Linked DNA regions of Homo sapiens. The protein of the gene in region 1 interacts with the protein of each later gene in a biochemical or structural test. Each region holds a gene or a part of one and is shown in the gene's direction. Other genes may lie near its edges. The genes, in order: UBE2R2, ARIH1 and BTRC.

Region 1 (3,652 bases):
AAATAATGGGTTGCAAGTTGTAATATTTGTGCATAAGTCTGGGAAAGGAGTGTGGAGAACCCTCTCTGAAATAGGAAGTATGGAAGGATTCCTTGTGTTAATACACTGATTTAAATTAAATGCTTCTGAACTTCAGTCCTTGTTTAAAAGAATGATTTAATCTCGTGCTTTGTGATGTTAGATTTCTTAAGCTTTGAGTGTTTTTACCTTTAATTCTGACATGTATGAAAATTTGTAAACAGGTTTTATGGTTTAGTCTTGTGTGAGAAGTTTGTTCGATTGTATTTTCGACTACTTTTTCCCTTATATGGCCTTTTATCCCATTAGTTGTTCATTAGAAAAAGGCAAATTTATGGTCATGAGCAGTTGACACTGGGGATATGTTTAAAACCATTGTTTTTATTTTACTGCTTTTGTCTTAAGACAAGGCTTTTAGTGTATTTCACTACAGCTGCAGTTGAAAGTTGGCACAAAGCTTTCCCTACCATATCACTCTTCTCCCTTATTAAATGTTAGTCCTTGAACATTTAGTATAATTTATTTTCAAGTTAAACTCTTTTCCCTTTTTGGCATAGTCATTCGTGAAGGCAGTGGGACTGCCAGTCATTCTTTACATTTTTCATACTGTAATTCCTTTAACTTTTATATATTAATAGGTTTCTAACTGATCTTTTTCACCCTGAAATAGTTGGCTCTTGTCTCTTACCCACAGGATCTGCATTGGAGATTTGTGAGACCTGTATTTCACAGAATTTTTTTATTCATCCTGCTTTCGCTTATTTAATATCGCCAATCCACGTGATTCTTAGTTTTGGGCCATATAGATGTAGGATGGGCAAAGATAGTTTCTTCTGTCCATTCTGAATACTATACAATCTTTTTTGGCCTTACTATCTTTTTGTGTAGTTTCTTATTTTGCTACCTAAGCAAGTCGGAATTTTATTGTTACTAGAAAAATAAATTGTGGATCAAGTCAGTAGCTAATGAAGACTTTTAACAAGTTCACCCCCTTTCTTTTGAAAGGAACTTTTTCAGGGTCTTTCTCTGTCACTTAGTTTGGGGTACAGTGGTGTGATCATGGCTCACTGCAGCTTCCACATCCTAGGCTCAAGCAGTCCTCCCACCTCAGCCCCCTGAGTAGCTGGGACTACAGGCATGACTACGCCCGGCTAATTTTTTTTTCTTCAGTATTGTTAAGTGAGGTAGGGTCTCACTATTTTGTCCAGGCTGGTCTCAAACTCCTGGGTTCAAAGGATCCTCCTTTCTCAGCCACCCAAAGTGCTGGTTTTACAGGCGTCAGCCACCATGCCCGGCTGGAACTATCTTTTCAAATAACTCCTGCTAAGGATTGTAGCTTAGTGTGGGTGCTTTAGTACTGAACCTCCTTGGAACTTTTGCATTATTTATCTAAAGCATTATAGCAGTGAGTCTAGAGCCAGAAAGAGTGCCTCTTTTATGATATGCATAACAAAAAAAAATTTTTTTTTTTTTTGAGATGGAGTCTCACTCTTTTGCCAGGCTGGAGTGCAGTGGCACGATCTCAGCTCACTGCAACCTCTGCCTCCTGGGTTCAAGCGATTCTCTTGCCTCAGCCTCCCGAGTAGCTGGGATTACCGGCGTGCGCCATGAAACCTGGCTAATTCTTTTTGTATTTTTAGTAGAGACAGGGTTTCACCATGTTGGCCAGGCTGGTCTTGAACCCCTGACCTTAAGTGATCTGCCCATCTCAGCCTCCCAAAATGTAATCCTAATTAGAGGCCTGAGCCACCACTCCTGGCCAACCTTTTATAGTTTTGATTTTATTAAATAATTTGATTGAGGTAATGAAATATAGATGTGTTCCATTTTTAGAAAACTCCAGTCTGATAATTTAGAAAGTATTTGTTGTATACTTAAAGTTTTCCTTATTAGGAACATCTTTATTAGACTCAACACTGACATATATATATATATATTTTTTTTTTTTGAGACTGAGTTTTGCTCTTATTGCCCAGGCTGGAGTGCAGTGGAGCGATCTCGGCTCACTGCAACCTCCGCCTCCTGGGTTCAAGCGATTCTTCTGCCTCAGCCTCCTGAGTAGCTGGGATTACAGGCATGCGCCACCATGCCCAGCTAATTCTGTATTTTTGGTAGAGACGAGGTTTCTCCATGTTGGTTAGGCTGGTCTCAAACTCCTGACCTCAGGTGATCCCGCTCACCTCAGCCTCCCAAAGTGCTGGGATTACAGGCCTGAGCCACCACACCTGGCCTACACTGACTTACATTAAAGAAACTCTTCAAAACCTTTTTTTTTTTTTTTTAAGAGATAGGGTCTCACTTTGTTGCCCAGGCTGGAGTGCAGTGGTGTGATCATAGCTCACTGCAGCCTGAAACACTTGGGCTCAAGGGATCCTCTTGCCTCACCCTCCTGAGTAGCTGGGACTGCAGGTGCATACCACACTCGTTTTAATTTAAAAAAAAAATTGTTTATGCAGAAAGGGTCTCATAGGCCAGGCTGGTCTCGAACTCCTGGCTTCAAACAATCCTCCCACCTTGGCCTCCCAAAGTGCTGGTGTTACAGATGTGAGCTACCACACCCAGCCAAATAATTTTTTTTTTAATAAGAGAATATGCATTATTTCCTATGCTTCATTTGTTTTGCAATGAATGAATCTATTTTCTGCCTTCCCTCTTCCCCCTAAAAAAACAAACCAGACTTAGCCTAGATCTGGCAATGTCATTTAGATATTTTATTTCTTTTTTTTCTTTTTCTTCTTCTTATTAATTTTTTTTTTTTTTTTTTAGCTGAGTCTCGCTCTGTTGCTCAGGCTGGACTGCAGTGGTGTGATTTCGGCTCACTGCAACCTTTACCTCCTGTGTTCAAGCAGTTCTCGTGCCTCAGCCTCCCAAGTAGCTGGGATTACAGGCGTGCACCACCATGCCTGGCTAATTTTTGTAATTTTTAGTAGAGATGGGGTTTTGCCATGTTGGCCAGGCTGGTCTTGAACTCCTGGCCTCAAGTGATCTGCCCACCTTGGCCTCCCAAAGTGCTGGGATTACAGATGTGAGCCAGTGTGCCCAGCCTATTATTATTATTTTAGAGACAGAGTCTCGCTATGTTGTCCAGGCTTGTCTTGAACTCCTGGGCTCAAGTAATCCTCCCGCCTCAGCCTCCCAAAGCACTGCGATTATAGGTCTGAACCATTGCACCCAGCCTATTTTATGACTCTTTAATTGGTAAAATATAGTTGAAAAAAAATTTTTTTTTTTCCTAGATGGAGTCTTGCTCTGTTGCGCAGGCTGAAGTGCAGTGGCGCGATCTTGGCTCACTGCAACCTCTGCCTCCCGGGTTCAAGCAGTTCTCCTGCCTTAGCCTCCCAAGTAGCTGGGATTACAGGTGCGTGCCAGCACGCCCGGTTAATTTTTGTATTTTTAGTGGAAACGGGGTTTCACCATGTTGTCCAGGCTGGTCTCAAACTCCTGACCTCAGATGATCTACCCGCCTTGGCCTCCCAAAGTGCTGGGATTACAGGCATGAGCCACCGCGCCTGGCTGAAAAAATTTTTTTAGGAAAATGATTGTTTGCCTTTTTGAGACAGGGATTCTTTTGAGAAATTGAAGAATTTTCTCAGAGAAAATGGGTACACGTAAACTAATTTTATGTATCTTTTTC
Region 2 (3,652 bases), on another chromosome or scaffold:
TGTAATAAAAACTGGGTAAAAGTAGACTATTTAAAAAATAAGAACCATGGAAAAAAAGTCTATGAAAATAAAACTATACAAACTTTGAAATTATTGTTCTGATCAGTACAGTTATATTTGTTGATAGCCTATGTGCATTTCAGTATTTACAGCTTAGGGCATAAACATGTAGCCGTAGCATAAACAGCTTTTGAAACTATGTTTTATAAATGTGGAAAATACTCTTGACTGGAAACTTTCTAATCTATTTTTATTCTTGGTTTCAGGCGCCTGATCACAGATTCAAAAGTTAAATTAAAGTATCAGCATTTAATAACAAATAGCTTTGTAGAGGTAAGTGATTTGTTTTCCTTCTTGTAAGAAGGAATTCTGTTTATTAATAGAAATACTATTTTAAAAATTATAATTTATTGACAGTAAAAAACATCTTTAACATATTTATGAAGCATGCCAAAATACCTTTATTCTCAAAAGAGTATGACAGGCCAGGTGTGGTGGCTCATGCCTGTAATCCCAGCACTAAGGGAGGCCGAGGCGGGTGGATCACCTGAGATCAGGAGTTCAAGACCAACATGGCGAAACCCTGTCTCTTCTAAAAATACAAAAATTAGCTGGGCACAGTGGCACAAGCCTGTAATCCGAGCTACTCGGGAGGCTGAGGCAGGAGAATCGCTTGAACCCTGGAGGCAGAGGTTGCAGTGAGCCGAGATGGCGCCACTGCACTCCAGCCTGGGTGACAGAGCGAGACTCCCTCTTAATAAAAAATAAAATAAAATAAAATAAAAGAGTATGAGAAACCAGTAAGTACATCTCTCCATAGATCTTGACCTTGGATAATAAAATTATTTTTACTGTATTCTTCCTTTACTTTTCTTTATCCCTAGCTGAGAATTGTAGTAGATTACTAATCGTGTCATGTTTAATCATGTTTGAGATTCTAACCCTGCTATTTCTCTGCTCGTTTTAGGTTTCATTACCAGTAAATCTTGTTAATAAAGAATGCTATCCTTTATTGGACCATGCCTTTGCCCATTTGTTCTATGACTCCTTTTGTGCTACAGTGGCAGAGTTGAGTAGTTGCTACAGAGACTGTTCTGGCCTGCAAAACCAAAATTCTTTACCCTCTTGGCTTGTTACAGAGGAGTTTTTCAGCCCCTGTATGACAACATCAGTAACTTGGTCTTTTAATTCTAGAAAGTAATTATTTCTGTTAGAGATTAAACCTGGAAACAGCCTATTTTAGAAATAGTGTATTATTTGAAATGGTCAATGGACTTCTGAATTCTGGTGCAGAGTGTTTTTTTTTCATAATACTATAAAAGTTATATTTCCTTTTGAGGAACTAAAATGCAATCTTTGCCTGTGGTTTAGGAACTGGGTTTTTTGTTTGTTTTTTTTTTTCCTTCTTACAAGAGCTTTTTATGGGAGAAGTTGTATGTATATCCTTTAGCCTATCTTGAACTATTCTGTAGCTTCTAAACACCTTCCTTGATAAAGAGTATATCTGATTTTCTTGTGTCTTTTGAAAATTGTTCTGAAATAGAACTGTAAATAAATTAGTGGTTTTTAATGGTCACATACATGATATTTAATTAAAGTTATTCAGTGGGATTTTGAAGATAGAACAAGAGGTGATTCATGTATTTTATAAAACCAGGTCTTCAGGGATCAGTCATCTTTAAAAAAAAAAAAAAAAGGCACATCTGAAGTGTTGCTATAGAAGACCACAGCAAGTTTTCATAAGCTTGTGTAATTATCCCCCATTTGCCCCTTGTACCAGAGAAGCAATATAAATAGCTTGATGTACTAGGAAATCTTGCATCATGACCTAATTTAATTTGCTGTCTTTTTTTGAGGCAGGGCCTCATTCTAACACCCAGGCTGGAGTGCAGCAGATGATCACAGCTCTCTGCAGCCTCTACTTCCTGGGCTCAAGTGATCCTCTTGCCTCAGCCTCCTGTGTAGTCGGGACTACAGGCACATACCACCATGCCTGGCTAAATTCTTTTTTCTTTTTTTTAAGGTAGAGACAAGGTCTTGCTATGTTGCCCGGGCTGGTCTGGAGTGCTTGACCTCAAACAGTCCTCCCGCCTTGGCCTCCCTAAGTTCTGGGATTATAGGTGTGAGCCACTGTGCCCAGCCAGCTGTCATTTTTTATTTTCTAACTTGTATTTCAGTGCAATCGACTGTTAAAGTGGTGTCCTGCCCCAGATTGCCACCATGTTGTTAAAGTCCAATATCCTGATGCTAAACCTGTTCGCTGCAAATGTGGGCGCCAATTTTGGTAAGCAAGTGATTTCCTAAATTGAAATAGTGCACAAAGCGTTTCCATTTCTCCTGTTTATTCTTGGTAGTAAAATAGCAGAAAAAAAGTGTTTACCTTAGGCAGGGAGATGTTTGATACTGGTTTAAAATAGTATATATCTCTTTCAGAATTGAATGAAAAGGTCACATCTTAAAAAAATTTTTCCTCTTTCCTTGATGTTCTAACTTTTTTGAATTTTTTTTTATGGAGAAAATATACAACTCTAATCATATCTTCCTGTATGCTCCACTGTAACTTAATGGGAGCAAACTTGTAGATCTGGGACTATACGTTTTTCTTTACTCTGCCAAATTTTAACCTTACTTATGCAAAGGAAATGTGCAGGTAAATTCTGCTGATGGTCTCCTTTTTAACTAAGAGTTTTCCTGTGGCTCCTCTCGCCCAGCTTTCTTGGTAACTTGGGCTTTTGGAGTTCTATAGTATACTCTTCAGCCTCTGAATTCTAGATTTGAACTGCCAGGAAGTTTCCAGTGCCACATATTAGGGGATGTCTTAATCAGTTCAGGCTCCTTTATAGGTGTTCTAGTTTTTTCCAAAGTGGATAGGCTGAAAATTTTTCAAATTTTTGACTTCTTATTTCCTTTTGATGAACAGTTTATCTCTAGGTCATTCATCTCTTCTTGCATTTTCTATAAACATTCAAGAGAAGCTAAGCTGCGTCTTCAACACTTTGCTTAGTAATTTCCTCAACCAGATATTCAGTTTCATTTCTCTACCTTCCACAAAACAATTCAGCCAACTTCTTTGCCACTTTATAGCAAGGATGGCCTTTCCTCTAGTTTCTAACAGCATGTTCCTCATTTTCATCTGAGACCTCATCATAATGGCCTTTACTGTCCATATTTCTAACAACATTCTGTTCATGGCCATTTATTTAGGTTTTCTCTATGATTGAGGCATTCCCTGCACTTCTGTCTTTCTGAATCCTCACCAGAATTACCCTTAACAATTCAGTTCATTCACAGTGATCTAGGCTTTTTCTAGCTTGCACTTCCAAGCTCTTCCAGCCTCTACTTACTACCTAGTTTCAAATCGGCTTTCACATTTTTGGTTTTGTTAGAACAGCACCCTCACTTCTTGGTACCATTTTCTGTCTTAATGTTCAGGCTTTTATAACAAAAGACCATAAACTGGGCGGCTTCTAAACAACATAAATTTATTTCTTACAGTTCTTAAGGGTGAGAAGTCCAAGATCAAGGTGCCAAAAGATTTGTTGTCTGGCGAGGGCCTGCTTTTCTGGTTCATAGATGGTGCCTACTTGCTGGGTCCTCATATGGTGGAAAGGACAAGGCAGCTCTCTGGGCCCCTTTTTTTTTTAAAAAGGAT
Region 3 (3,652 bases), on another chromosome or scaffold:
GCGCCACTGCACTCCAGCCTGGGCGACAGAGCAAGACTCCGTCTCAAAAAAACAAACAAACAAAAAAGGAAGATATTGGCCAGGCGTGGTGGCTCATGCCTGTAATCCCAGCACTTTGGGAGGCTGAGGCGGGCGGAACACGAGGTCAGGAGATTGAGACCATCCTGGCCAACATGGTGAAACCCTGTCTCTACTAAAAATACAAAAATTAGCCAGGCCTGGTGGCGCGCACCTGTAGTCCCAGCTACTCGGGAGGCTGAGGCAGTAGAATCACTTGAACCCAGGAGGTGGAGGTTGCAGTGAGCTGAGATCGTGCCATTACACTCCAGCCTGGGTGACAGAGCGAGACTCTGTCTCAAAAAAAAAAAAAAAAAAAAAGGAAGCTATTTGAGCTAGCATCAAATAATTAGTGCACAGTACACATGGAAGAACTATCCTTTTAATCAAACGGGCATTTTTATTACTATTTGGCTTTGTTCTGGTCTTAACCTTTCCCTCAATTGTGAATCGCTAATGACAACTTTTATACAGATGTCATGATTTCCATGGTTTAAACAAATGTAAAATTAGTTTAAAATGCCAGAATGAAATGGATACTCTCACAAATTTGCTCATTGCTATACTAAAGTGCCTTGATAAAGAATTTTACAATAAAATCCTGTTAATAAGACTGCTGATTCAGAGATGACCATAATTCACACGTGATCGAGACTTAAAGCTTATTGTTTTACTTGTGAAAAAAGTTTAAGCAGAATGTTTAACTTTTAAAAACAAATAAATGATATTGAAAGCAACGGTTTACATTAACTTACGTGCTAATGTCTCTCATTCAGCTTTAGCAGGTCCTCAAGGACCTTTCTTAATACTTTTTTGGTTAACAAAAGTATAAATGGAAACTTGAAGAGAACCTAAGAAGAGAAATGAAAATGATTGAGGGAATATAGACCCCAAAACACACAAACACACACACACAAGCACGTTTAAGATAGGGGTTGAAAAGACATACTGAGGAGGAATTTGAACTTTATTTTTGTTTTCACCTTTGAGACAGGGTCTCACTATGTTGCCCAGGCTAGAGTGCAGTCATAGCTTGCTGCAGCCTCAAACTCCCAGGCTCACATGATCCTCCTGCCTCGGCGTCTCAAGTGGCTACAGGCACACACCACTATGCTGGCTATTTTTTTTTTCTTTTTTGTTTTTGTAGAGACAAGGGTCGCCCTTTGTTGACAGGGGTGGTTTTTGAACTCCTGGGCTCAAGGGGTCCTCCTGCCTTGGCCTCCCATTGTTGGGATTACAGGCGTGAGCCACCTTGCCAAGCCACGTTTATTTTTAAAAACAGGATAAATATATTCTTGTCCAGCCAATCCCAGAATCAAGTACAGTAGCTTGAAATAGATGAAATAATTTTAGAATGTATTGTTTTATTTATAGAGCTGATAGATAAATGAAACAGTATAAAGGGTAAATATTTGCTGTTTAACAGACAACCTCAAAACTTAGCTTAAAAAAAACAATTATTTTTCCCCTCAAATCTGATGGTTTTTCTGCTTCACTTGGTATTGGCTGAGGTGTGGGAAAGACCTTCACTTCTCCTCTATATGGGCCTTTCTCTACCTGGCTGCTTGGATTTCCTTAAAGTGTGGTGGCAAGGTTCTAAGAAGGGACATTCCAGGAGACAGGAGGTAGAGACTGCCAGTCTTCTAAATCCTAGATTTGGAAGTCCAAGAATGTCACTGTGGGTCAAAGCCAGTCAAGGCCAACTACAGAGGGAGGAGAAATAATGTCTACCTATTGATAGGAAGGGTGGCGTGCATAAACAAGGAAGGGGGAATTGCTGGGGGCCACCTTTTGAGACTTGCTACCGTAGGTGCTATGCTAGTTGGATGTTAAGGCTAAAAATAAAAATGGTATCGGCCAAGTTTGTGGGTCATAATGCTAGGAATGTTTAGGAGGCATCTCTTTTTTTGAGGTTAACTTCGGAAGGCACTAACATGATCTCCTGCGTGACTTCCCTTAATGATGTCACTGTTGACATAATACTGGGTGAATTAATGTGATTAAGTAAACTTGCTTACTTACTTCAGGAAACAGAGGTATCTAAACAGATTACATTTTAAAATAAATTGTCAGATGTTTCACTGTAATGGAATTTTCTTTACATCAGTGAAATTGATTACCAGGTAGTGGGATGAACATCTGAAACTAGTTCTTAGTTTAAGTTGTCTGAGTTTTTGTGTATACTTTACCTATTCCCAGTTTAAATTGGCTTTCAAACAGTTTGTTTTCTGGGTACTCTTATAGGTGTTGGGGTATGAAATTAGTGGTAATTCTTTTTGCCTATTTTCTTTTTTTTTGTCTGAGATACCCTGAGTCTCGCTCTGTTGCCCAGACTGGAGTGCAGTGGCACAATTTCGGTTCACTGCAACCTCCGCCTCCTGGGTTCAAATGATTCTCCTGCCTCAGCCTCCTAAGTAGCTGGAATTACAGGCGTGTACCACCTTGCCTGGCTAATTTTGTTGTATTTTTTTTTTTTTGAGATGGAGTTTTGGTCTTGTTGCCCAGGCTGGAGTGCAATGGTGCAAACTCAGTTCACTGCAACCTCTGCTTCTGAGGTTCAAGTGATTCTCCTTCCTCAGCCTCCCCTGTAGCTGGGATTACAGGCATGCACCACCACACCCAGCTAATTTTGTATTTTTGGTAGAGACAGGGCTTTTCCATGTTGGTCAGGCTGGTCTCGAACTCCCAACCTCAGGTGATCTGCCCGCCTTGGCCTCCCAAAGTGCTGAGATTACAGGCGTGAGCTGCCGTGTCCGGCCTCTTTTTGCTAATTTTCTAAATTTATGTTTATAGTAGATTTTCATAAATTATCAAAAGTGAATTATTAGATGTGGAGTAAAAATTCAACTTTGAGTAGTTTTAGAAATTATTTATTGCTAAATTAGAAAATAAACTTTCAAAAGAGATCTCTTTTTTTTAAAAAAACTTAATTGAGACAGGGTCTCACTCTGTCACCCAGGCTGGAGTACAGTGGTGCAACCTTGGCTCACTGCAGCCCCTACCTCCTGGGTTCAAGCAATTCTTGTGCCTCAGCCTCCCAGGTAGCTGGGAATACAGGCATGTGCCACCACGCCCAGCTAAATTTTGTGTTTTTAGTAGAGACAGGGTTTCACCGTGTTGCCCGGGCTGGTCTCGAACTCCTGACTTCAAGTGATCCGCCCACCTTGGCCTCCCAAAGTGCTGGGATTACAGGCGTGAGTCACTATGCCTGGCCTAGAGATGGGATCTGCTTTTTTTTTTTTTTTTTTTTTGAGATGGAGTCTTGCTCTGTCACCCAGGCTGGAGTGCAATGGCACGATCTCAACTCACTGCAACCTCCGCTTCCCAGGTTCAGGCAATTCTCCTGTCTCAGCCTCCTAAGTAGCTGGGATTACAGGCACCTGCCATCATCCCTGACTAATTTTTGTATTTTTGTAGACGGGGTTTCACCATGTTGGCCAGGCTATTCTTGAACTCCTGACCTCAGGTGATCCGACCGCCTCGGCCTCCCAAAGTGCTGGGATTATAGGCATTAGCTACCGCGTCTGGCCTCTAGAGATGGGATCTTGCTTGCTCTGTTGCCAGGTTGGCCTTGAACTCAGGCTAGGGTTAAGTG

What was found.
Region 2: the proteins of UBE2R2 (region 1) and ARIH1 form a complex in vitro, tested with the Homo sapiens proteins (one study listed by BioGRID).
Region 3: the proteins of UBE2R2 (region 1) and BTRC form a complex in vitro, tested with the Homo sapiens proteins (2 studies listed by BioGRID).

Annotation. Positions count from the first base shown.
Region 1 is NC_000009.12:33,820,143-33,823,794, forward strand, and holds part of UBE2R2 (ubiquitin-conjugating enzyme E2 R2), read left to right. Parts: intron 1-3,652. UniProt on the Homo sapiens protein: E2 ubiquitin-conjugating enzyme that accepts ubiquitin from an E1 ubiquitin-activating protein, and catalyzes its covalent attachment to other proteins by an E3 ubiquitin-protein ligase complex.
Region 2 is NC_000015.10:72,561,217-72,564,868, forward strand, and holds part of ARIH1 (E3 ubiquitin-protein ligase ARIH1), read left to right. Parts: intron 1-266; coding exon 267-333; intron 334-2,177; coding exon 2,178-2,284; intron 2,285-3,652. UniProt on the Homo sapiens protein: E3 ubiquitin-protein ligase, which catalyzes ubiquitination of target proteins together with ubiquitin-conjugating enzyme E2 UBE2L3.
Region 3 is NC_000010.11:101,357,084-101,360,735, forward strand, and holds part of BTRC (F-box/WD repeat-containing protein 1A), read left to right. Parts: intron 1-3,652. UniProt on the Homo sapiens protein: Substrate recognition component of a SCF (SKP1-CUL1-F-box protein) E3 ubiquitin-protein ligase complex which mediates the ubiquitination and subsequent proteasomal degradation of target proteins. Recognizes and binds to phosphorylated target proteins.